Homo sapiens: one gene and its partners. The protein of the gene in region 2 purifies or fractionates together with the protein of the main gene of each other region. This does not show direct contact. Each region holds a gene or a part of one and is shown on either strand. Other genes may lie near its edges.

The links.
Region 1: the proteins of CLEC2D (region 2) and ATP7A purify together in Homo sapiens (co-immunoprecipitation; 3 studies listed by BioGRID and IntAct, with this or other methods). This does not show direct contact.
Region 3: the proteins of CLEC2D (region 2) and SLC25A20 purify together in Homo sapiens (affinity purification with mass spectrometry; 2 studies listed by BioGRID and IntAct, with this or other methods). This does not show direct contact.
Region 4: the proteins of CLEC2D (region 2) and SLC39A11 purify together in Homo sapiens (co-immunoprecipitation; 3 studies listed by BioGRID and IntAct, with this or other methods). This does not show direct contact.

What each region holds. Positions count from the first base shown.
Region 1 is NC_000023.11:77,906,643-77,913,693, reverse strand, and holds the start of ATP7A (copper-transporting ATPase 1), read right to left. Parts: upstream 3,002-7,051; 5' UTR 2,859-3,001; intron 1-2,858. UniProt on the Homo sapiens protein: ATP-driven copper (Cu(+)) ion pump that plays an important role in intracellular copper ion homeostasis.
Region 2 is NC_000012.12:9,686,700-9,693,732, reverse strand, and holds part of CLEC2D (C-type lectin domain family 2 member D), read right to left. Parts: intron 5,832-7,033; coding exon 5,647-5,831; exon of another isoform or gene 5,572-5,646; intron 906-5,571; coding exon 802-905; intron 700-801; coding exon of another isoform or gene 618-699; intron 1-617. UniProt on the Homo sapiens protein: Receptor for KLRB1 that protects target cells against natural killer cell-mediated lysis. Inhibits osteoclast formation. Inhibits bone resorption. Modulates the release of interferon-gamma. Binds high molecular weight sulfated glycosaminoglycans.
Region 3 is NC_000003.12:48,856,404-48,860,893, forward strand, and holds the end of SLC25A20 (mitochondrial carnitine/acylcarnitine carrier protein), read right to left. Parts: intron 3,225-4,490; coding exon 3,152-3,224; intron 2,799-3,151; coding exon 2,689-2,798; intron 2,229-2,688; coding exon 2,104-2,228; intron 1,370-2,103; coding exon 1,307-1,369; 3' UTR 523-1,306; downstream 1-522. UniProt on the Homo sapiens protein: Mediates the electroneutral exchange of acylcarnitines (O-acyl-(R)-carnitine or L-acylcarnitine) of different acyl chain lengths (ranging from O-acetyl-(R)-carnitine to long-chain O-acyl-(R)-carnitines) with free carnitine ((R)-carnitine or L-carnitine) across the mitochondrial inner membrane, via a ping-pong mechanism.
Region 4 is NC_000017.11:73,089,685-73,096,766, reverse strand, and holds the start of SLC39A11 (zinc transporter ZIP11), read left to right. Parts: upstream 1-4,078; 5' UTR 4,079-4,156; exon of another isoform or gene 4,157-4,272; intron 4,273-4,650; exon of another isoform or gene 4,651-4,943; intron 4,944-6,916; exon of another isoform or gene 6,917-7,053; intron 7,054-7,082. UniProt on the Homo sapiens protein: Zinc importer that regulates cytosolic zinc concentrations either via zinc influx from the extracellular compartment or efflux from intracellular organelles such as Golgi apparatus. May transport copper ions as well.

The DNA of each region.
Region 1 (7,051 bases), on a different chromosome or scaffold from region 2:
ATTAGGAAATCACTTCAATTTGCAAACAGTGCTGGAAAAAGTAAGAACATTTTATAAAATCAGAAACACAGGACCCTTTTACTTTAATGAAACACATTCTAAAGGAATTTTGATATTTTTCCTGCCAAACTATCTCAGCAAGTTAAGTAAGCAAGTAATATCACATTAAATCAACCTGAAGACTGAGATTTAAGAGGGAAAAACATGATTGCTGGGATGGTAGAGTGAACTAAAATACTCTGCCTAACCATTGCCTATCACTCATCTGTCCCCCAGCCTCCCCCTTGCCCCGGCCCCATGTTGAGCTATATCCTAAGAAATATCGTTGTCTAAAAACAAAACGCTAAAACCTGAACTGCCCTTTAACAAAGATGAATAGAAGGAATTTTGAGACAAAACTCCCAAATACTATTCTCATCTATGCTAGTGCTTCTATGAGTTCAGACAAAAATCTCTCCTTGCAATTTACTTTCCCAACTGGCAAATGAAGATTATTTTCACTCATCAGGATGTCCAAAGTCTTGATTAATAAAGTTTGCCAAGAGCTTTTAAATATATAGATAAAAGGAGTTATAACAAGGAATTTATTTTTTTAAAATGTATTTCCTTTAGCGCCCTCACAGAAGTGAAGGTTGTGGTGTGTTAGCTGGGGTTATTTTTGCACTCTTTTCTCTCTCTCTCTTGTTTTGTAAGCAAATTTTACTGCTTCTGCAAGCATTTTTCAAAGAAAATCAACCTTCTGCTTTAGAGAACAGAGATGTTAACCTATCCTTTGGAGGGATTAGTGTTTAACCTTATCTTGAGGGCAGGCATCAAGATCTTTCTAAGGCTGTGATCGGAATAGAATAGTTCCTATCAAGTTAAGAAGATCAATAGAGAGAAATCAATTTAGAGGAAAAAAGGAAAAGCAGAGATTCCTTGGGGAAAACCTGGAACAGTTGCTCACTTCAGAAAATGTTATTCATTCCCAACAATTTTAAAAATGATTCCAAATTATATTTAAGGCACAACACTCAATCAGAATTAAAGTATAGCGAGTTTTACATTTTTTCTCTTTTAGATTTGAGTTTACATCAGAATTAAGCCTCATACATTAACATTGCTTTTGTCATTTCCATGTATTTTTTTCTCTATATAAGCTTTCTTATTGGCTGGAGGGCAGTTGGATATGTTTGTGAGCTGACTAGTTTTGTATTCTATATTTTTTCTAATTTTAATCAGTGACATCTTGGAAGATGTGGCTGTTAGAAATAGGAATATTGACTTACAGTGTGTTACTGGATGTCGGGCAACTTTCCAGACCCCCATGGCTTTGCTCACATTATTTCTTCTATCTATCAGTCCAGATAGATGTCTTCCTCTTCCTCCATTCCTGCAAAGCTAAATCCTATCTATTTTTCAAAGCCCAGTTCACATGCTCCCTTCCCTGCACTCTCATAACACCTCCTGTTTCTAATATATAACGTTAGTGAGATTTTTTAAATGTTTAGGTAATCGTGTATCTTTCTTTCCTACTACATTGAGATCCTCAAGTACAAAAAAAACTCTCTCATGTCATGACCTTAGACACCAGAAAATGTTAAATATAATAAAATGCCAGTTCAAAAATAACCATTGAAAAGGATGTGATAAGCAACCTAGTAATTCAGTCAGTGGGGCTGCTAGAAACCGTTGTCTTCATAGCTGAATTCAACTGACTCAATTCGGACTCAATTGTATGTAAACTGTTTATTTTTCTTTCTTCTTTTTTGGAGACAGTTTCGCTCTTGTAGCCCAGGCTGGAGTGCAGTGGCACGATCTCGGCTCACTGCAACATCCGCCTCCCAGGTTCAAGCGATCCTCTTGCCTCAGTCTCCCGACTAGCTGGGATTACAGGCGCCCGCCACCACGCCCAGCTAATTTTTGTATTTTTAGTAAAGACAGGGTTTCGCCATGATGGCCAGGCTGGTCTCGATCTCCTGACCTCAGGTGATCCACCCTCCTCGGCCTCCCAAAGTGTTGGTATTACAGGTGTGTCAGACACTGCGCCCAGCCTACTGTAAGTAAACTCTTTTGAGGCCAGGAACTCTGTCTTATTTCTTGTGCATCACCCCCTCCCCACCACCCCCCCGCACCCGGCAAAAAAAAAAAAAAATTAATAACCTCAGTATCATCTAATTCAATGTTCTGCACATATTCTCAATACAAAGCCATACTATTGTAGATAAAGAGTCTGTGATTAAAATAAAGATCAGATCCTGGACAAACGCTGAATTGTGAAACGATAAGTGTTTGTGCTTAAGATAATCTCAACGTCTACAACGAAGAAAAGTGTCAAAGATAAGATGCCACAGGGTCGGACAATGGACAGTAACTTTACTGGAAAGGGGGCACAATGAACAAAACTAAGTGGAAACAAGAGTTCTCTCAGTTTACCTTACGCTCCCAGAGCAAGACAAGAAGCCAAATATCTATTTTTCAATTATTATTTCATCAATTATGGTCATTTTAGTAACCTTAGCTTCCAAAGTATAAAGAGGTGTCACTAAGCAAAGACCCCAGTCCATGTGACTTTCAATGCCAAACACAAACTTTCTTGTACCCTCAATTAATTGGGTAACGTAGGCCATGGATGATCAGGACATTCTCTCCAAGAGGGTACAAGAAAGTGACACAGGTCAGGATTTAATTTCCCCTCCTCTATCCCCTGTTAGGGGAGGTAAAACATAAATGTAGTTAATACCTGAATTGTGAATAAGTGAAACTTTCGAGACTGCCCCAGACTAACATGACCTTCTCACCACACTCGTAGTACAAACTGACAGCACAGAAGACCCCCTCCAGGAGAAAGGACGACGGGAAGCCAATGTAGGACTTACCTGGTTTCTCTATCCTATGGTTAAACCTCTGGAGCTACGCAGACCGTGGCAGCGATAAATCCACGTACGCAGGCTCCAACAAAGCTCACACAATCGGAGAAGTCACAGTAGCTGCGGCTGCGGCGGCGGCAGCAACAACTCCTCCCTCTGCTTCTCTTTTCCCACCCCCCGCCGCGGCGGCCAGCCGCCTTTACCCCTCCCTCCCTCGACTACCCCCACTTCCGGGTGATGCCCCTGCCGGAAGCAGGGCCGCCACGGGAAAGAGAGCGACTGGTCACGTGAAAAGGAACGCGTGGTCTAGAGCCAGCTTCTCCTGCCCCCTGCTGCCCCCGGGCCGACACGCAGCCTCGAGTGGGTCTTTGTTAGGGTACGAGTCCACTATCCCACCCCGCCCCCACGACAAAAGCGAAACCAGAAAACCCATACTAAAACAGTGCCTTTGTCATCTTTAGTTTCCTAACCTCAGGCCAAGATGTAACATAAAAGATCCTTATAAGTCATCTTCCACATAGTTCATCTTTGCCTAGCATGAAATTCACGTGCATCTGTTAGACTGTGTTAACTGCCAAGATGTAACATAAAAGCTCCTTATAAGTCATCTTCCACATAGTTCATCTTCGCCCAGCATGAAATTCACGTGCATCAGTTAGACTGTGTTAACTGCCAAGATGTAACATAAAAGCTCCTTATAAGTCATCTTCCACATAGTTCATCTTCGCCCAGCATGAAATTCACGTGCATCTGTTAGACTGTGTTAACTTGCTTCCCGTAGACTGTGTAGCCTAATTCCAGATGTAAGTGCCAGAACTATGAATTTATCCTCTTCCCTCCATTGAAAAATTACATCAAGAGGAAAATGTTTATAAATTCATAATTTTTATATGTGTGTTGAGGGGGTAGGGACGTCACTTCACCACCTTCATAGCGCCATTCCAAGCTCTGAACCACTCCCCCATTTATTCATTCACTCGTCCATCATTTTACACACCTAGAAGATTCCGGTGATGCAAAAGTGTTACAGTCTCTGTTACCATGAGTTCATTTAGAAATGAGATGCATAAAATGTAAACAATGCAATAAATGGTACAGAAAACATTTGAAAAAAGGGTCATTTTATTCTTGCTTTCCAACTTAACATTTTGAAAAGCAGCAAAATTCTAGGATTTTTAAAACTATGAACATTAACAGTAAAAAGAGGGAGAGGCTCCATCTCACTTATTTCAAAGCAAGATGTGGCCTTTTCATATTTCCTTTCATGAAGTATCTGTCATAAGATGTAGAACAAAACTAATCACAGGACTATTTGTATTTTCATCTGGAACCATTTGAACCCAGTTCCCACAGAAGAGTATGAAGCCTAATAATGTTGCAGAAATCAAAATAGTACACAAAATACAAATATCAAGTAAATATTTGTAAAAGACTTAGAACAGCGTCCGGCACAAAGTAAGCATATTTAAGTGTTGAAATAATTTCCATCCTAGCTGTTGTCAAGTCCCTATTAAGCCTTGACAGGCAACATTTAAAATTACCCATAGATCTACATTTTAGGTCTGTGATTAAGTATTTCAGAATTATTATCCCCCTCCACACTCATCCACATAAATATAAAATTAGCCTCAGGACTCATCTTCCCAGGCATTATTTTGTAGTTGTCAATGTGTGCAGCCTTAATTATTAAGATACAAACTCAGCCCCAAATTTAAAATCTTAAAAATCACATCATATGAAATGAAGATAGCTTTTAAGTGGGTTTCCAAATATTAGCAAGTTGGTTTGTAACTATATTAACATTGTGTTAAGCATCCAAAAGAAATTCACTAAAAGGCAAAACCAAAAATATATCTTTTTCAGAAGCAGAACATTGAATCTACTAGCTATCTAGTATTTTTATGTAAATACTAAAGTTTATCACTATGAGCTGCAAGATCCTCTGCCAACCATGTACATTCTTAGGCACTCTAATATTTAACATAAAAACCTAGAGAGCTATATATATATTTTGTTGTTGTTTGGTTTTGAGAGTCTTGCTGTCACCCAGGCTGGAGTGCAGAAGTGTGATCATAGGTCCTTGTAACCTTAAACTCCGGGGCTAAAGCGATCCTTGCACCTCAGCCTCCCAAGTAGTTGGAACTATGGGCACACACCACCACACCTGGCTAGTTTTTATTTTTTTGTGTGTGGAGATGGGAGTCTCCCTTTGTTGCCCAGGCTGGTCTCGAACTCTTGGCCTCAAATGATCCTCCCACCTCAGCTGCCCAAAGTGCTGGGATTACAGATATGAGCCACCAGGCCCAGCCTAAAACTCTTGTCTTTAAATGCATCATCCCTAATCCTCCTTACCAATGCACAAGCATAGAAGGGAATGTCTTCAAGAAATAATCAGGTTTGCTGGGGGTTGAGCAGACAGCAGGTGTCCCTAAAATGCTTATGAAGTGTATTAATAACCCCAGTGACATTAAGCCAGGAGGATGGGAACTCAACATCTGTACCTCTACAACTACCACAGTACCCGTGTCTAGGTAAGTTAAAATGAATCTAAAATAACAGAACACAGGTGCTACAATAATTCTGTCCTAGAGTGAAATTAAGAATGAGATTTATGAGGTTGGGCACCGTGGCTCACGACTGTAATCCCAGCACTTTGGGAGGCCGAGGCAGGTGGATCGCCTGAGGTCAGGAGTTCGAGACCAGCCTGGCCAACATGACAAAACCCTGTCTCTACTAAAAATATAAAAATTAACCAGGTGTGATGGTGGGCGCCTGTAATTCCAGCTACTTGGGAGGCCGAGGCAGAATCCCTTGAACCCAGGAGGCGGAGGTTGCAGTGAGCCAAAATCACACCACTGAACTCCAGCCTGGATGACAGAGCAAAACTCGGTCTCAAAAAAAAAAAAAGAATGGGATTTATGACATTAACCCTAATGTTAAAATATTTCACAGCCATCCAAATAGAGTTTAAAGGATTGGCAATGATTTTAAGGTAAGTAACTTACCTAAATTCTTCAGACTTACAGATACTTGAGGACAGAGGACTAATTTGACGACTTTCCAACTCTAGGTATGACTGAAACTCAAAGCGATGTTACGGGTAAGTTGAGAAAATTTGTGTGAAAGGATATTTTCATGGCTCTGAGAGCACTAGGAAAGCTCCAAGGTCAGTATATACTGTGATGGCACACACACACAAAAAACTGCTTCATTTCTAGTAGTGGTCATAAGTTTTAGAATTACTCATCAGGATAAGATTAACTACAAAATTAAGTTCAAAAAGTGTGTTCAAAGTTACTACCACCACCAGGTTTTATCACACAAAGCAACATATAATTTTGATCACAAATGGACACAGAAAACATTCTAAATTGTCATACAGATGACAACTATCACTTAGCTTAGTACAAACCATACTGAAACTGCTTCCACGTCGTGAGAAATAAGTGTTAATTCAGTGACAAAAAGGTATATAATTGAAGGTTGACACTTCCTTAAATACATGTTTATTTTACTTCAATATCGCTCAGGGTTGTATGTATTTGAATACTTCAGTACTATTTTGAACATTCTAAATATGAAATACCATAAAGCGTTCAAATTTATCAAACAGTGGTACAATATGGTTACTAAACTTGCAACTTAATTTACAATGACGTTCAATTTTTCCTCTTCAAATAAAATCACTGACTTTGGTCCATTTGATGAGAAACTAGGACATATGCCATGACAGCATACTTCTAGCACTCTATGTAATAAGCAAAAGATAATTTAGCTAATATAGACAGGTTACCTGACTGAAATTCTACTTTCTGCTTAATTGATCACGATCAAGAAAACTACAAAAAAAAAACAAAAAACAAAACAAAACAACTACCACAGACTACAGCTCTCAGCCAAGAAAGTAATGATATATAAGCCGGGCGCGGTGTCTCATGCCTGTAAGCCTAGCACTTTGGGAGGCTGAGGTGGGTGGATCGCCTGAGGTCAGGAGTTCAAGACCAGGTTGGCCAACATGGTGAAACCCCATCTCTACTAAAAATACAAAAATTAGCCAGGCATGGTGGCAGGCGCCTGTAATTCCAGTTACTAGGGAGGCTGAGACAGGAGAATCACTTGAATCCGGGAGGCAAAGGTTGCAGTGTGTCAAGATCACACCACTGCACTCCAGCCTGGGCAACAGAGTGAGACTTCATCTCAAA
Region 2 (7,033 bases):
TCTAGATATTTATGAAGCAGTCACAATGTGCAAGGCAGTGTAGATACAACAATGTATAAATGTACATGTTCTCTGATTTCTAAAACTTACCATCCCATCCAAGGTCAAAAGCTAATGAGAAAAAACTCATTTCAAACCTGCCAATGTCCAGTCTGGGGCTCTTTTTATTAAATAAAGTTATATTTCCAATATTGATGAATGTATTACAATAAAGTAGCTTTTCAAAACTGTCTCATCTCTCAGACAAACATTGAGTGAAATTGTGTGAATCCAATTTTTCCAGCATTATCTCAAATCTTTTTAGTAATCTGAAGATCCTATAAATATACAATTGAGATTAAATTTTCTAGTGCCAAACTTTACCCATTTTAAAATTTTAAAACTATTGTCTTATTTTAAATAATAGGTATAATTGCTGTCACTCATAATCTTTCCCTGATACATCAAAACCTCTGTTCCTCACATCAACCCTGTGAAATCAGGAGGACAAGTGCAATTTAATTTTGTTGTGGAGGTAAGGAACAGACTTAAAGATATTGTATGGTTTGCTTAAAATGAAAGTGTTTGAAAATGACATAGATAAGCCTGGAGCCAAGTTCACAGTCAGTCTACCTCACCATGACAGGTCTTGGATTCATTCGAGGAACTTGTGAAACCTTTGCAACATACAAGTTGGCACCATCTTCTTTCATGACTAACCTTAAAATGAGAATTTTTTAAAGCATGTAACTAGAGAACACTTCAGATTTAATGCAAAGTAAATTCAAATACAAATATTACTGCCAGATTTTTAGAACTTACTGTCTTGTCCATTCAGTACCATTTATCCATTTCCATGGTTGGCCTTGTTCTCTGCTCAGCCCAATCCAGTGATCAGATGGGCCTTTATATCTCAACAGGAAATTCTTTCAGAAAACACAGAGATGATATTCATTAATCTAACATAACCCATCCTCTCCCAGAAATGTTGCTGCTATGCTATATTCTTAACTACTCATAATTTTCTTCCTTTTGATTTTGTATTGTTTAGTAATACATACAGAATAGGTGTGCTATATTATCATACATATCAAAAGAAGATAATTTAAAACTGAGAGAAATTGTTGATAATTTGGTTACTTTTGTTTCTGTATTGTACTCCTTTGTATGACTCTTCTCCAATTTATCTATTATACTATCGGTTGACACCAGGGTTTTATCAAGTTTGGAATGTATGCTACTATGACATTCTTGGCACCTGTCCTAGAATAGAATTTTTAGGCCCCAGGATATGCTTTTTGTCAACTTTAAGAAATGACACCACCAGGCCAAGCACCTGTAATCCCAGTACTTTGGGAGGCCGAGGCAGGCGGATCACCTGAGGCCAAGAGTTTGAGACTAGGCTTGGCCAACATGATGAAGCCCCCTCTCTATTAAAAAAAATACAAAAATTAGCTGGGCGTGATGGCATGCACCTGTAATCCCAGCTATTTGGGAGGCTGAGGCATGAGAATCATTTGAACCTGGGAGACAAAAGTTGTAGTGAGCCAAGATCACGCCACTGCACTCCAGCCTGGGCAATAGAGTGAGATTCTGTCTCAAAAAGAAACGAACGAACGAACGAACGAAAGAAAGAGAAAGAAAGAAAGAAAGAAAGAGAAAGAAAAGACACCAAACTAATGTAAGTGTACCAAATTATCCTCACAACAGCAGCAGCATAGGCTGGTTTCCTTTGCTGTGTTTCCTTGTCAATGTGTACTGTCCTTTTTATGATTACAAGTTCTGAATTTTAACGCAATTAAATATATAAACAATTTTCTTTATTATTAGTAAATTTAGGGACTTATTAGGTAAATCTTTTACTCTTTCAAATCATAAAGATGACTTCTATTTTTGTTTTACTTTTTTTAGTTCCTTACAGTGTACAGTTAGGCTATGGATTTGAGATCTTTCTTCTTTTTTAGTTAACTGCTCACAGCTATAAATTTCCCTCTTAGAACTATGTTCAGTGTATACCATAAACGTGCTATTTGTATTTTTACTTCATTTGTCTCAAGGTATTTTCTAATGTCCCTTGTGATTTCTTCTTTGACCAATGGCTGTTGAAGAGCGGGTTTTTAAATTTCTACATATGCGTGACTTTTCTGGTTTTTCTAGTTATTGATTTCTAGCTTCATTCCATTGTAATTGCAAAAGATACTTTTTATGACTTCAAATTTTCACACTTACTAACACTTGTTTTGTGGCCTAACATATGGTTTAAGAATGTTCCATGTGCATTTGAGAAGAATTAATATTCTGCTCTTGTTGGGTAGATTCTTCTGTATATGCCTGTTAGGGATAATTGGTTTATAGTGTTGTTCAAATTTTCTATTTCCTTATTGATCTTATGTCTAGTTGTTTAATCTCATGTTGAAAGTGGAATATTTCATTCTCTAACTTTTCATAGAACTGTTCTTTTCTCCCTTAAATTATAGCAATTATTGCTTCATATATTTTGAGGCTGTATTATTAAGTACATATATTTTATAACATAATTATTTGGCTATGTCAAAATTTTTGTCAATGCATAATGCCCTTCTTTTTCTCTTGTAAATTTTACTTTAGTTTATTTTGTTTGACAAAAATATAGCCACTCGGCACTATCTTGGTTACTACTGTTTGTATGGAATATCTTTTTCAGTCCTTTTACTTTCAACTTCTTTGTGTCCTTATATCTAAGGCAAGTCTCTTATAGACAGCATGTAGATGAGTCTTGTTTTTCTTTTTAATTTATTTTAGTTTTTAGCCAACTTGTCAGTCTCAGCCCTTTAATAGGATGGCTTCATCCTTTTCTATTTAATGTGATTACTAAAACAAGATTTACTTTTGCCATTTAATCATTTGTTTTCTCTATATCTTATATGTCTTTGTTTCTCAAGTTGTCTGTTACTGACTTTTTTTGTATTTAATTGGTTTTTTATAGTGTATTGTTTTTCTTTTTTCCTTTTCTGCATAATTTTGGTAATTTTATTAGTGGTTACCTTGAGAATTATAATTAGCATCTTAAACTTGTAACAATATAATTTCATAATATCAACATAGCTTCAATAACTATGCAAACATTTTGATCCTATATGTCTTCATCCCTGCTTCATAAGACTGTCACAGATTGCATCTTTATACATTATATGACCACTATCATATTTATAATTTTTATTCATTTGCCTATGAAGTTATAGATAAATATAAATATAGAAAGCTATAAATAGGAGAAGTTATAAACTATATGACACATGTAGTAATTCTGGGTTTTATATTTACCTCTATTGTTACTTTTATGAATATTCTTTATTTTGGAGGCTCTGAATTGCTGTCTAGTGTACTTTCAGTTCAGCCTAAAAGGTTTCCTTTAGCATTTTCTGTAGCACATGTCTACTGGTAATAAAATCCCTTAATTATTGGTTATCTGAAAATGTGTTACTTTTTCCTTCATTCTTGAAGGACAACTTTGCTATACATAGAATTCATGGTTGGCAGTTTTATTTTTTCTTTCAGACATTTAAATATGCCATTCCACTACCTTCTGATCTCCATGGTTTCTCAGAGAAAATCAGCTATTAATTTTATTCAGGGTCTTATGTAAATGATGAGTTGCTTCATTCTGGCTGCTTTCAAAATTCTCTCTGTGGATTTTGTCAACTTGACTATATTTTGTCTCAATGTAGATCTCTTTAAGTTTACCCTTTTGGAGTTCATTGAGCCTCTTGGATGTATATATTTATGTATTTCCTCAGATTTTGGAAAGTTTTGTTCATTATTTCTTTAAGTGTATTTCTCTGCTTCTCTTTCTCTTCTCTTTCCTGGATTTCTACAGTACATATGTTAGTATGTTTGCTGATGTCCTACAGGTTCCTTAGAATTTATTTATCTTCATTCTTTTTCTTTGTTTTTCTTAGTCTGGATTGTTTCAATTATCTTATTTTCAAGTTTTCTGATCTCTTACTTCTCAAATCTGCTGTTGAACTTCTTCATTGAGTTTTTAAAATTATTTTTAAATTTCAGTCATTGTACTTTTCAGCTCTGGAATTTTTGCTTGGTTCTTTTTTACAATTTCTACCTTTATATTGATATTCTAATTTTGTTCATTTATTATGTTTTCGGTTTCCTTTAGCTTTTTGTCTAGTTTCCTTTAACTCATTGGTTATACTTAAGACAGCTGATTTAACATTTTTGACTCATATTTTTAATATCTGAGCCTCTTCAGGGATAGTTTCTGTCAGATTACTTTTTCTTCCTGTGAATGAACCATACTTTTCTTTGCATGTTTTGTAATTTTTTTTTGAGAACTGGACATTATGAATACTATGTTGTGGTAACTCTGGTAACTTAATTATTTTGCTCTTCAGGGATTGTCAAATCTTGGTTGTTGTGGCTCAGAGTCATTTGGTCATGATTTTTTCCCAACTATTTTTATTCTCTGTTGTGCATGGTCATTGAAATCTCTGTTCTGTTATCTCTGCTGTCAGCCAGTTATCTAATAAAAATTGTCTTAAATGACTGCTTCCTAAAGGGAGGAAAAACACATACTATTTATTTAAATCCTTGGGAAGCCACTTCAGCTGATGAGGACTGATGCAATGATAGCCCACTTCTGTGTCTGCCCCTCAGCATTCAAAGGCAGAAATCAGCAATAACCCTGACATTTGGACAAAAAGGTGCTTATTGTTCACCCTGGCTGCAGGAATTCATTACAAGAACATGGGCAGCAGTTCCCATGGATCCCTGCAATAATGGGGTATGGAAAATAGTTATTATTGAGTGGAAAGGCTGAAATTCACCAACATTAACCAAAATTTATCATCCTCTTTATCAAACTCTTCCCTTGATGCTTCCAGTGTTTAACTAGACTCGAGAATTCCAAAATAGTTACTTCAGACAGTTTTTGACAGTTCAATAGTTTTCTCAGTGGAGGAACAGATTTCTGTAGCTTTTTAGTCTACCAACCTCTATGACATCATTCTTGCTTGACTTATTGTTTTTATTTTATTATTTTTTTGAGATAGAGTCTCACTCTGTTAGGCTGGAGTACAGTAGCATGATTTCAGCTAACTGTAGGCCTCCACCTCCCAGGTTCAAGCAATTCTGCTGCCTCAGCCTCCTGAGTAGCTGGAACTACAGGCGTATGCCACCATGCCCAGCTAATTTTTGTATTTTTTAGTTGAGATGGGGTTTCACCATGTTGGCCAGGCTGATCTCAAACTCCTGACCTCAAGTGATACACCCGCCTTGGCCTCCCAAAGTGCTGGGATTACAGGCATGTGCCACTGCTCTTGGCCTTGTTTGATTTATTTTGAAACAATGTTGCTAACTTCATACAAACTTAAAACTGGGTTTCTACCAATACTTTTCTAATCCTTATTTGCACAATTCTGGCTCACAAGTCAAAGAAGGCTCTGGCTTGCTTGCCCTCTGGGCCTGTTCCTGCCACGAATATTAAGGTAATTTTAGATGGTTCACTGTAAAATATAATACATGCTAGGTTACTCTTTCGTTATGCAAAAAAAAAAAAAAAAAAAAAAAATCAATGTAAAAGCAGATGTCTAAACCTACCTCTTAGATAATTTCACAGGAAAACATATCCTTGTAGGGCTGAATCTTTGATTCTGGCCAGAACTATTTTCTTACCAGTTCCTGGAAGCTTTCAACCTGAGCAAGATCAGCATCTTGTGAGTCACAAAACCTCTGACTTGATGTCCAGTTCTTGGTGTCATCAGAAAAATAGAAACACTTTCTTTGAAAACCAATCCAGCTTTCTGGGCATGCAGCTTGAAGACATACTGATGGCTCTTGATGGCAGTTAGCTCTTATTGCTGAAAATAAAATAAAAATAAATAAAATAAAAATTTCTTACTTTTATATTGTATTGTATAAATTACCAAGTGCTAATATACTTTCTGACACTCCTGTTAAGTATTAAATGTATTATTTTCATTTTTCAAGTGAGAAATATGATGCTAAATATAATTGCATACATTACACAGCAAATGGCAAAACTGAGATTCAAACTCATGCCTTCAGCAGGGGGTGAGCTGAAAAAGGAGTTATTAGTAACTTAAGCTTGCTCTGGGCCATGTATCTATTTGGCTCTCAACAGTGTTACCCTTTCTTAAAATATTAGATACATTAATGATAGCATTTGATCAGCTTTGGAGAACAGATAGTTCTCCAAGTGCTCTAGATTAGGGGTCCCCAACCCCTAGGCCATGGATCAGTACTGGTCCATGGATGAGTCAGGAAGCAGGCTGCACAGCAGGAGGTAAGCAGCGAATGAGTAAGTGAAGCTTCATCTGTATTTACAGCCACTCCCCATCACTCACATTACCTCATGAGCTCCACCTCCTGTCAGATCAGCAGTGGCATTAGATTCTCATAGGAGGGCAAACCCTATTGGGAACTTCTCATGTGAGGAATCTAGGTTGTGGGCTCCTTGTGAGAATCTAATACCTGATGAACTGTCACTGTCTCCCATCACTCACAGATGGTACCATCTACTTTCAGAAAAACTAGCTCAGGGTTCCCACTGATTCTACATTATGGTGAGTTGTATAATTATTTTATTATATATTATTACACAATGTAATAATAATGGAAATAAAGGGCACAATAAAAGTAATGCACTTAAATTATCCCCAAACCATTCCTTGACCCCAGTCCATGAAAACGTTGTCTTTCACAAAACTGGTCCCTCATGCCAACAAGGTTGGCGATTGCTGCTCCAGATGACTTGGTAAAATGAAGGGCAGGATAGAGATGCCTTATGTGAATAAGGTTTCTTGATGTGAAAAAGCCTTGTATATGTCTAAATACTATCATAAATATGAAATAAGTTGTTGTACAGTGAACTTCCTTCCACTAAGGAGATTTAGTGAGGTTTTCTACACTTTGAAGGCAGCAATACTTCACTGGACAGGCTTTTCTGACCCACTTCTTATATAATCAGGAGAAATGCTCTCTTCATGTGGGATCGAGATGAATGAATGTCTCTCCAGATAGTTGTCACTGAGCCCCTAGT
Region 3 (4,490 bases), on a different chromosome or scaffold from region 2:
GTAATAATCTAGCTTATGACTCTCCAACTCCCTCACCTTTTCTGGACACACCTGGATAGCATAATCTGCCTGATTAGTAAAGTTAAGCTAGCTACCTCAGATCGCACAGCAACTCCAAAGCCCACATGAAAACCCGAGATTGCTTTTGTCCTTTTAGAACAACTGACTCTCCATCTGTTAGCTCAGACACCCATGGTGCTCAGGGAAGAGAGGGGAATAAATGAAGGGATGGGTTGCAGGCTGGGCCTTGGGAGGGCCTGTCTGCCAGGCTTGCATTGAGGCCTGTGTGAACAATTACCAGTCGGGTCACACCACCCCACACACCCTCCCTAGAGCAGCCGGGGCTAGGGCAGTCAGAGAAGGCAGAGCCAGCCAAAACTTCCTCCTCCTCCACCTCCTCCTGCTGGATCCCCAGCCTAAGGTTCCCAGGGAAGAATACTGGATCCCTGAAAGCCTCCACCAAGGCTACAGGCTGCCTGCTGAAATGTCCCAGAATCAAAAGAAGAAAATATAACACAATGCAAAAATTAGAAACAACGTTTATTGTTTATTGTTAAAATAGTGAGCTCTCATGAGAAAAGAGTATGTAAAAAGGGCCTTCCTACACCCTGGGCTTTCTCACTTATCCCAGCAGACTGGGACTGTCCTCACTGTGTAGGAGGGAAAGTTCTCCACCTGCTCCCAGAAAATTAGGCTACTCCAGTTTTACTTTTGATTATTTGCAGGCATAAAAAAAAAAAATCAAAATCCAACGATTAACAGTCTATCTCCTCCTAGGCATATATGCTCAATCCACTTGGACACAGAGGTGGGCCTCAAGTCCATATCCACATGTACAGCCCAGGATTAGATGGCACCCTGGAAATCAAATGGGTATTCCTGGCTAGGGACTGAAGAAGATCTCAGCTCCTGGTGATCTGGTTGAAAATATGCACAGTGCCTCCAGTGAGAACCTGAGATTCTCTCTTTAATGAGGAATACTTTGACTGTGGTAGGACCAGCAGTTAACTGGTAGGCAGCATTCTTGCCACAGGTAGTATCTGGTCTGGAAGCTACTTGTTCCATTTCCAAATCCTTTTAAGATCCCTTAAATTGATAAGAATGAATTCAAGTTTCAAAATGACACACTAAGTTATACACGGTGCAGGATGTCATTAAGGCAACAGTCTCACCAAGTCCATGCACAGGGCTCGGATCTCACCATTCCCCTCCCCTTGCCCTCCAAGACTGCTTAGTTCTGCTTACTACTCCTTCTCCTCAACGACAGCTTCCAGCATCCAGAAGTGAACTTGAGCAGCCTTCAGCCTCACAAGTTGGGGGTGGCCCAATTAAGGAACTTCATGGCAACTTCAAAGCCAAGGAAACAGGCCTAAGAAGGGATTGGGAGGAAGAAAAAAGCCAGCAGGAATAACTATTCATAGACTATTCAAAGCACTATGCTTTGCTGGCCCTGTCAGGACCAGAGCCCCTCCCTAACCCCACACCCACTCCACATCAAGGATGCAAGCTCTACTCTCTCATTTTTAAGAGGAGAAGAAAATTTATATTCCACAACTGCCCACTTCTTTTTTTTTTTTTTTTGAGATGGAGTTTTGCTCTTGTCACCCAGGTTGAAGTGCAATGGTACAATCTCGGCTCACTGCAATCTCTGCCTCCCAGGTTAAAGTAATTCTCCTGCCTCAGCCTCCTGAGTAGCTGGGATTACAGGCACCCGCCACCACGCCCAGCTAATTTTTGTATTTTTAGTAGAGGCGGTGTTTCCCCATGTTGGCCAAGCTGGTCTCAAACTCCTGACCTCAGATGATCCACCTGCCTTAGCCTCCCAAAGTGCTGGGATTACAGGCACTAGCCACCATGCCTGGCCTCACAACTGCCCACTTCTAATGGCCAGGTCAGGAAATCAAAGCCCCTCACCTCAGAGATCCCCAAAGGCAAATCCTCCTGACAGCTTCAAGGAAGGGAGCAAATAAGGAATGCTCTGGCTGAAGATAGGGCTTTGGGAAAACTGAGACCCCAGTCCTATCCCAGGAACAAGCAAAAGTCAAACCACATGCACCCTGCCCTGAGCCCCAGAGGGAAAGCACAGCCCTGCCAGCTACTCACCGCATTGGCTGGGAAGGCTCGGATCATCACTGCATTGAACCCTTTGTACAAGGATGTGACTCCTTCATCCCGGATCAGCTCCCTCAGCACATCTCTGAAACCATTAGGATATTTCCCAGGAGGTGCTGTGGGGCAGAACCCAATTTTTAAGGCTTCAGGAAGGAGAAACTAGCAGTTAAGTCTTCCTGAAGGGTCAGGACTAGCACAGGGAAAGGACACCTTGCAGGTCATGTGGGACCAGTCCATAGACAACAGTTCACCTTGGGACAAATGCACAAATGCCTGAATTACTTGTGCCAAGGGAATAGAAACGAGGGAAGAAGAATGAAACAGCCCTTCTGTTCATGTGGGGGAGGAAGAGTGGACTTGACTTCTTATCACACTTACCTTGTGTTTAGGCTGTCATGAAAATGAATCTAGGGTTCCTAGAATGCAAATGACTGTGAGGGAGAATATTGGTCAGGCAGATGCTAGGTGCTGCCATGGAGAGTGAGTATCCCTAGGGCCTTATGAGCTTTGCACCCCAGGATTAGCCAGTGCTGGGGACCCACTCTCCCCCTGTCCACCCCACTACCTTCCACTCACCAGTCTGGAATCGAGACTTGAGCACATCTGGGGGGATTGCCACAGCCCAGTTGAAGATCCCTGCAATGCCCCCAGCCACCAAGATCCGAGGGGCACTGAGCTCACTGACCCTGTATAACACCAACCACAGCCCCAGTTAGACAAAGGCTGTGAGAGTGGCATTCAGACTATCCTGCCTGTGGCAGACAGGGCAGTTACAGACAGGCAGAAACTGGTTGGAGGGAGGAGGTATAAGGCCAGTGCTGCTGGCACTCCTTGGAGAAGGTTTCATGCACCTGTTTCAAATATTTGCTCCACTGGCTGAGGCACAGAGTAAGAAGAGCTAGCTGGACCTCAGCAGCCACAAGAGGAAAGCAGACATGGAGCCAGGAACAACAACTACTTCTGCTTTCAGATTCACCCACAGGAGAGGGCAACGCACCCATGACTGGGGAAAGTGGCTTCCAAGTTATGTTTTCCTCACCTCTTTCCCTCCGGAGTGAAGATATTTTTCAGCCATTCATATGTCATGAAATACATTCCACTAGCTGGGACATCTGTTAGTGGCAAGAAAAAGGTGAATTAAAGTACATAAACTCTTCGCCAGGCATGGTGGTACACACCTGTAATCTCAGCAATTTAGGAGATTGAGGCAGGGGGATTGCTTGAGGCCAGGAGGTCCGCGCTTGGCCTGAATTATTAGTAAAATTGTTTTTTAATTGGGTGACCAGATTTGGTTCAATTTATTTGCTTTCTAAACATTAGCGTATGGTAGTAATTTATGTAGACTAAAAAAGCATTAAAAAGAAAAAAATGCCAGGCATGGTAGCTCATAACTGTAATCCGAGCACTTTGGGAGGCTGAGGCAGGCACATCACCTGAGGCCAGGAATTCGAGACCAGTCTGGCCAATATGGCGAAAGCCTCGTCTCTACTAAAAATATAAAAATGGGCCGGGCATAGTGGCTCATGCCTTTAATCCCAGCACTTCGGGAGGCCGAGGCGGGCGGATCACAAGGTCAGGAGTTTGAGACCAGCCTGACCAACATGGTGAAACCCCGTCTCTACTAAAAATATAAAAATTAGCCAGGCGTGGTGGCGGGCACCTGTAATCCCAGCTACTCAGGAGGCTGAGGCAAGAGAATGGCTTGAACCCGGGAGGTGGAGGTTGCAGTGAGCTGAGACTGCGCCACTGCACTCCAGCCTGGCTGACAGAGTGAGACTCCATCTCAAAAAAAAAAAAAAATACAAAAATACAAAAATGGCCAAGCGTGGTGGCTCACACCTGTAATCCCAGCACTTTGGGAGTCCGAGGTGGGCGGATCACGAGGTCAAGAGATTGAGACTATCCTGGCCAACATGGTGAAACCCTGTCTCTACCAAAAATTAGCCGGGCATGGTGGTGCATGCCTGTAGTCCCAGCTACTCAGGAGACTGAGGCAGGAGAATCGCTTGAATCCAGGAGGTGGAGGTTGCAGTAAGCTGAGATCGAGTCACTGCACTCCAGCCTGGTGACAGAGCAAGACTCCATCTCAAAAAAAAATAATAATAATACAAAAAATACAAAAATTAGCCCGGCCTGGTGGCACATGCCTGTAATCCCAGCTATTCAGGAGGCTGAGGCACAGGAATCACTCGAACCCAGAAGGTGGAGGTTGCAGTAAGCCAAGATCACACTAATGCACTCCTGGCTGGGCAACAGAGCAAGACTCTGTCTCAAAAAAAAAAGAAAAAGAATATAGTATTATTATTATTATTACTTTACTTTTTTTTTTTTTTTTTGAGACGGAGTCTCGCTCTCTCGCCCAGGCTGGAGTGCAATGG
Region 4 (7,082 bases), on a different chromosome or scaffold from region 2:
TCTCGGCTCACTGCGACCTCCGTCTCCCAGGTTCAAGCGATTCTCCTGCCTCAGCATCCCGAGTAGCTAGGCTTACAGGCGCCTGCCACCATGGCCAGCTTATTTTTGTATTTTTAGTAGAGATGGGGTTTCACCATGTTGGCCAGGCTGATCTCGAACTCCTGACCTCACGTGATCCACCCACCTCAGCCTCCCGAAGTTTTGGGATTACAGACGTGAGCCACCGCACCTGGCCCAGGAAACATTTTCTTCTGGCCAATACTCTGGCCCTTTTGACTGTAAGGAAGTATGTGAAAGGGGGCAGTTTGCATGTTTGCGGAGTGGGCATATGTGTGGGAGTTTATTGAGAAAGATGGGGAAATGGTAAGATTTGTCTCCTGGGGGTTAGCACCCCTCCCGCTTATGGGCTTGGTGTGGTTTAAAGAAAGTGAGATGCAGAAATGCTGATCAAGGTGGCTCTGGGTCTCATCCTGTGAGCCCTGAATGCCCCATGCAGGAAGGGCACCATCTCAGGAGTCAGCTGGGCTTGGTGTCCCACACTGCCCCATGGACCTTGGGTCACTCCAGAGCTTTCCTGAGCCTCAATTTCCTTATCTGTAGAATGGGGATAATGATACCTTCCCCTCAGAGTTGTGAGTTTTACATAAGAAGAGGATATAAAGATAAAGTGGCCCAGGTTGGGCATTCAACAAATGTTAGTTGCTTCCCCACTTTTCCTTTCCCACATCAAGTTTACCTATGCATTGCATGCAAGCATCTCTTGAGGACATGCTATAATATGAGGTGCTATCCTGGCTGGGATGAGGGGAAGAAGCTCAGTAAGGAGCTTGATTCTAATCCTGGGTCTGTATGCCGAATATAGCAGTGAAGTTAGATCCTACAGTATAAGACAGAAGGAGGCAAGTGCCTTAGAATCCAGATGGAGTTCTATGGGACCTTAGAGGATAGAGACTCGATTTGTAACCAGGGCTGGGACAGGTGGGAGATGAGGTCAGATGGGGTGCCCAAGGAGAATGCATTAAACCTGGGTCTTGCAGGATGGTGGGGCTTAGATTTGGGAGGCGAAGGGCAGTTCAGCAGAAATGGTATAAGGGAGATAGGAGTGGCAGGGAGGGAAGGCTGTGTGGAGGACAGCGAGCTGTCCAGCCTGGCTTGGCCAGAGGGCACAGGGAGGAGAACCCTGGGAGACAGACTTGAGAACGTTTAGTTGGAATCATACCACAGCAAAACTCAAATTCCAGGCTGAAGCATTTGAACTTTATGCCAAAGGCACTGGGGAGCTATCGGAGCTTTTTGAGCAGGAGAGTGTGATGTGCTGTGCTTTAGGCAGGCTGATCTTGGCGGTGCTACATGGAACAGACTAGACAGGGTGGAGTGGAAGGAGGTGACTCCATGACCTAGATGAGGGATGGGCAGGTTGAATCCTCACAGCAGCAGTGAGAAAGGAGAGAAAGGATTGGGCAGGAGAGGCACTTTGTGGATCGTTGTAAACATTTCTGTTTATTTTTCATTATAAAGAATTTAAGCGGCTGGGCGCAGTGTCTCACTCCTGTAATCCTAGCATTTTGGGAGGCTGAGGCAGGTGGATTGCTTGAGCTCAGGAGGTTGAGACCAGCCTGGCCAACATGGCAAAACCCCGTCTCTACTAAAAATACAAAAAATTAGCTGGGTGTGGTGGCACGCACCTGTAGTCCCAGCTAATTGGGAGGCCAGCTGAGGCAGGAGAATCACTTGAACCTGGGAGGTGGAGGGTGCAGCGAGCCGAGATTGCACCACTGCACTCCAGCCTGGGTGACAGGGCGAGACTCCGTCTCAAAAAAAAAGAAAAGAATTTAAGCATCCACAAAAGTAGAAACAGAAACATTTAATGAACCTCTACGTGCCCGTTCCCCAGGTTCAACAATGGTTAATTTTTTATTTTTAAGAGACAGGGTCTTTCACTGGAGTGCAGTGGCACCATTACGGCTCACTGCAGCCTCAAACTCCTGGGCTCAAGTGATCCTCCCCACTCAGCCTCCCTAGTAGCTGGGACTACAGGCCCAGCTACCATCTGCCACCATGTCCAGCTACTTTTTAAAAACTTTTTGTAGCGACGAGATCTTGCTTTTTTGCCCAGGCCGGTCTCAAACTCTTGGGCTCAAACAATCTGCCCACCTTGTCCTCCCAAAGTGCTGGGATTACAGGTGTGAACCACCATGCCCAGCCTAAGAATGGTTAATTCATGGCCAATTTTGTTTAATCTCTACTCCATCCACTTTTCTCTTCCATCATATTTTGAAGTGAGTCTAAGATATTGTGTCATTTTATGGCTATTGCAGCGTGCAGGAAGAGGTATGACATTTTGGAAGATGAGTTGATGGGCCGTGCCACATGGGTATTGTGTCTCTGTGTGCCTGTACATACTCTCTTATGTGGAATTGCAATGGCTGATTTGACTCTTCCAAGTTGGGGGTCTTTTAAGGGCAAAGACCACCCTCCAGTGGCCAGGCTGTCTTCTCCTCCCCATGGAGTGCTTGGTATATGGTGCGACCGTCAGTGTGAACAACCTAGTTCCACTGGAAGAAAGAGGCCTGTTATTGGACCCTTTGGGCTATGGCCATCGAGACCACGGGTAGCTTTTCTGCTCAGGTCACGCTCTGATATGTTGTCAAATAAAACACAGGACACTCAGCTGGGTTTCAGTTTCAGATCAACAACAAATATGCCTGTAACATAAGTATGTCCCACACATTGCCCGGGGCATATTTATAGTAATAAATGACGTTATTTTTCTGAAATTCAAATTTAATCAGGCTTTTTTTTTTTTTTTTGAGATGGAGTTTTGCTCTGTTGCCCAGGCTGGAGTGCAGTGGCGTGATCTTGGCTCACTGCAAGCTCGGCCTCTCGGGTTCACGCCATTCTCCTGCCTCAGACTCCCGAGTAGCTGGGACTACAGGCGCCTGCCACCACGCCCAGCTAATTTTTTGTATTTTTAGTAGAGACGGGGTTTCACCGTATTAGCCAGGATGGTCTCGATCTCCAGACGTTGTGATCTGCCCGCCTCGGCCTCCCAAAGTGCTGGGATTATAGGCGTGAGCCACAGCGCCCAGCCCAGGCATCTTGTTTCTATCTATTTATTTATTTTGTTTTGTTTTTGGCTAAATCTAGTCAATCCTATCCTCTGGTCTTTTCACAGAAATCCTGCAGATCAAAGCCTTTGACCTAGGGCAGTGCTTTTCAAAGGGTGGTCCCAGGACAGCAGCATCAGCAACTCCTAGCTCAAAACAAGATCTCAGGCCAGGCGCGGTGGCTCATGCCTATAATCCAGCACTTTGGGAGGCCCACACGAGTGGATCATTTGAGGTCAGGGGTTCGAGGCCAGCCTGGGCAACGTGGTGAAACCCCGTCCCTACTAAAAAAAAAAAAAAAAAAAAAAAAAAACAAAAATTAGCGGGGCTTGGCAGCATGCACCTGTGATCCCAGCTACTCGGGAGGCTGAAGCAGGAGAATCGCTTGAACATAGGAGGCAGAGGCTGCAATCACCCGAGATTGGGCCACGGCACTCCAGCCTGGGCGAAAGAGCGAGACTCCATCTCAAAAAAACAAAAGCAAAAACAAAAAAATCCCAAAATGTCAGCCCCACCCAGAATGACGGAACCAGAGCCTCTGGGGGTGCTGGCATTTTGTGTTTGACCCCCTCCAGTGATTCTTTTGAGGGTCATTGACTGGAGAATGATGCCGATGCCATCACATTACCCGCCCCCAGCCTCTCCCGCAACACACACACAGCACATCCTGCTCTGCTGCGCACCCAGTGGCATGGACCTGGCTGCCAAAGGTGTAGAAGCATAAGTAACATCAGGGGTGTTACAAAGGGCTCTTTCCTTGGGTGTTTGTAGCTTCCCTTAGGGCTGCAGTCACTCGCAGACTGCTGGGCTCTTGGCCTCAGGGCTCTGTTCTGCCCGCCCAGATCTGTTCCTGAGCCTGCAGACGGCTGTGAACCAGAGAATCTATTCTTCAGGCGGGAGTTGCCAGTTGCGGCCAAGGGGGCGGGGCCCGGAGGCGGGAGGGCCACGTGTGCGGGAGGGAAGCAGGAAGTGACTGCGGGAGTGGAGCCGGCGAGAGAGTGGCAGCGGGGGCTGATGGAAGTGCAGTGGGGGCTGGAGAGGGCACCCTAGTGAGTTGGCTTTTCTCTCCTTCGGTGCCTTTGGTTGGGCTCGAGGCCCGGGGTCGGAGGCCATCAGGACAAGAGTGTGGGACTTGGAAGGGCAGCCACCTGGAGCTTGGAAGGGGGTACGCCTGGAGAGAGGAGGGGTTTGGAGGAGAAATTGGAGGCTTTGGCAGGTGTCGGGGCGGGGTGGGAGGGTGAGGGGCGGTGGGAAGGAAGTCCCCGGACCCCGGCTATGTCCCTCTCCAGGGTGATCTGGAAGGCAATGACATGCCTTCCTTTTACAGTCCTAACCCAAATCCTCTTCGTTCGTCCCTTCCTAGGCGGTGTGTGGGGGTACCCGGGATTCCTGGGAGCAGAGGCAGCTACAAATCCAGCTGCTCCCAGGCCCCTCCCACTTGCTCTGGCTGTTAGCTGGACCTCTGGAACTTGACTGGGAATCTGGTTAACTTGCAGCAGGTCTGGGTGGGGCGTGACAGTGTGCATTTCTAACTAATTCCCAGGTTGGGTGGTCCGCGGACCACGCTTTGAGTAGCGAGGCATTAGAGAACTTTTCCACAGTCCTCTCCGCCCAGACCTGAATCCTTCTGCTGGATTCCCCCTCGTGGAGTTAGGGCATGTGTGTGCAGCTCCACTAAGGCCCAGCAGCCCTAGTGCTGTTTCCACTTCTGCAACTTCACCAGCCTCTTGAACTGACTCTTGGAAGCGGAACAACAGGTTTAAAAGGGGGAGAAAGGAAATAAAGAAAACAAACCTGTATCAATCAGCCGGGAATGCCCATGTGCTGCTGTGGCAGGTGTGTACAAGTCTACAGGCTGTTGGCATGTTAAAAGTTGGAACGGTCAGAGAATGATTCTCCCTGCTGCTAACGAATCAGGGTTGATGGAATTAATATCCCCATCGTGAGGAATTCTGAGCCCCATTGTGTAAGCTGTGATGGAGATGCTGTGTCCTAAAGTTGTTACTGGTCTGCCGGTTAGAGAAAACTTCTTGTTCTCTTGGGACTCTGCCAGAAACTTTTTCTTCTCTTGAGACTCTGCAGAAAACTTTCTGTTCTTTTGGGACTCTTCTTTGCTCTTGCCAATCCCACATGGGGCAGGAGAACTCATTTTCTAAGCTCTTGGTATTGTAGAAGTTTTACCAGTTTTATTTATTTATTTATTTTTATTTTTTTTTGAGACAGAGCCTTGCTCTGTCACCCGGACTGGAGTGCAGTGGCGCGATCTCGGCTCACTGCAACCTCCGCCTCCCGGGTTCAAGCGATTACTCCTGCCTCAGCCTCCCGAGTAGCTGGGACTACAGGCACTGGGACTACAGGCACACACCACGACGCCCAAGTAATTTTTGTGTTTTTAGTAGAGATGGGGTTTCACCGTGTTGGCCAGGCTGGTCTCGAACTCCTGACCTCAGGTGATCTGCCCGTCTTGGCCTCCCAAGGTGCTGGGATTACAGGCATGAGCCACTGCGCCTGGCCAAGTTTTACCAGTTTTAATCTTTTGCTTTCCACAGTTTAATGTGCATAAGAATCCCCCATGGAATTCCACAAAATGCAGACCCTGATTCAGAAAGTCTGGGGTGAGACCTGAGTTTCTGCATTCCTAACTAGCTCCCAAGCCGGACCAGTGCTGCTGGTTCTCTGACCACCCTTGTAGCGAGGATTTAAAACAGCAAATAGAGAAGAAACTTCTCCGAGGGGCACTGGGCTTGCATTGCCCGTGATCAATGCTGCTCCTGTTGGGATGGAAAGGATGGTGGCCTCGGTCTTCCCTCTGTGTCCCTTTTTCTTACTCAGGAGGGTGCTCAGATATACATGGGGACAGGCTTAGACGGGTGTTTCCCTATCCCACTAACCACCAGGAACACCCACGAGCTCCCTCTGTTCTGTTCACCAGCCCACAAGATCCACATTGACTTTGGCCTGTTGGCAAATGTAAATTGTTTGCTCTCTTCTGTAGCTGTCAAGAGGCACATTCAAATACAGGAAAGAAAGGTGTTTTTGTTATGCCCTGTCTTGGATGATAAGTACTAAGAGGATGATCCCTTTGTGCTGTTCTTTGTAAATGCTGTTTGAAATTTTGTCCACAGCAACTCGGAATAGATGATTGGTGTAATGGTCCAGATGGCTTGGTTTAAAAACAAAGACCAACCCCTCTTTTTAGGGTGGCTTAGCAAGATGACGGATGTAAAGGGTAGTAGTTTTTTGAAAATGATTTTTTTTTTCTTTAATTGGCGTGGTCACAGTTTTCACAGTTGGTGCAGTTCGTTTAGAGTGCGGGAACTAGAGTCTGATTCCATAGATGCTATTTATCTCAGAGTTTCTGGCACAGGGGCTGAGCCAGGGCTCACCTGGGCTCACCTGGACCTATACCCTTCCTAGGTTTGAGCCTGGGTGTGTTGCTGAGCCGCTTGGCATAAGGGCTGCGTCCACACTCTGCCATGGTTTCCTTCCAGGGTCAATCGAGGCAGCGTCTTCAGCTCTTGATCTGCAGGCTCAGGGCTGCTGGCTCCTCACAGAGCACCGGGAACTGGCAGGGCTGAGCCCAGTGTGGTTGTGTCCAGCCAGCCCTCTGGGTGCTGGCAGACCATCAGGGAGATGAATGAGGCTTTGATATGAGGCCCTGAGCCCAGTGTTTGTGTACCAGAACACAGGGCTTTTCAACAAATGGGTTTCTCTGCCTTGTAACTTTCCACAGGGAGAGATCTGATTGTCATCTCAGATCCAGAATTTTAAGCATGTTAAAGTCTGGAGGAGGTTCTCTGGACTGAAATGAGAGGGAGTGGTACTTCCCTTCCTTTCCTTGGTGGGCGGTGGTGTAACTTCAGCTTCAGCAGCAGGGTGCTGAGTTGACCAGGGGACATTCCATTCCTGGGTCCTTTTGCTTGTCCTTGCTGACTGTCCTGTGCAGGTAAGCTGGCCCTTTTCCATCCAGCACAT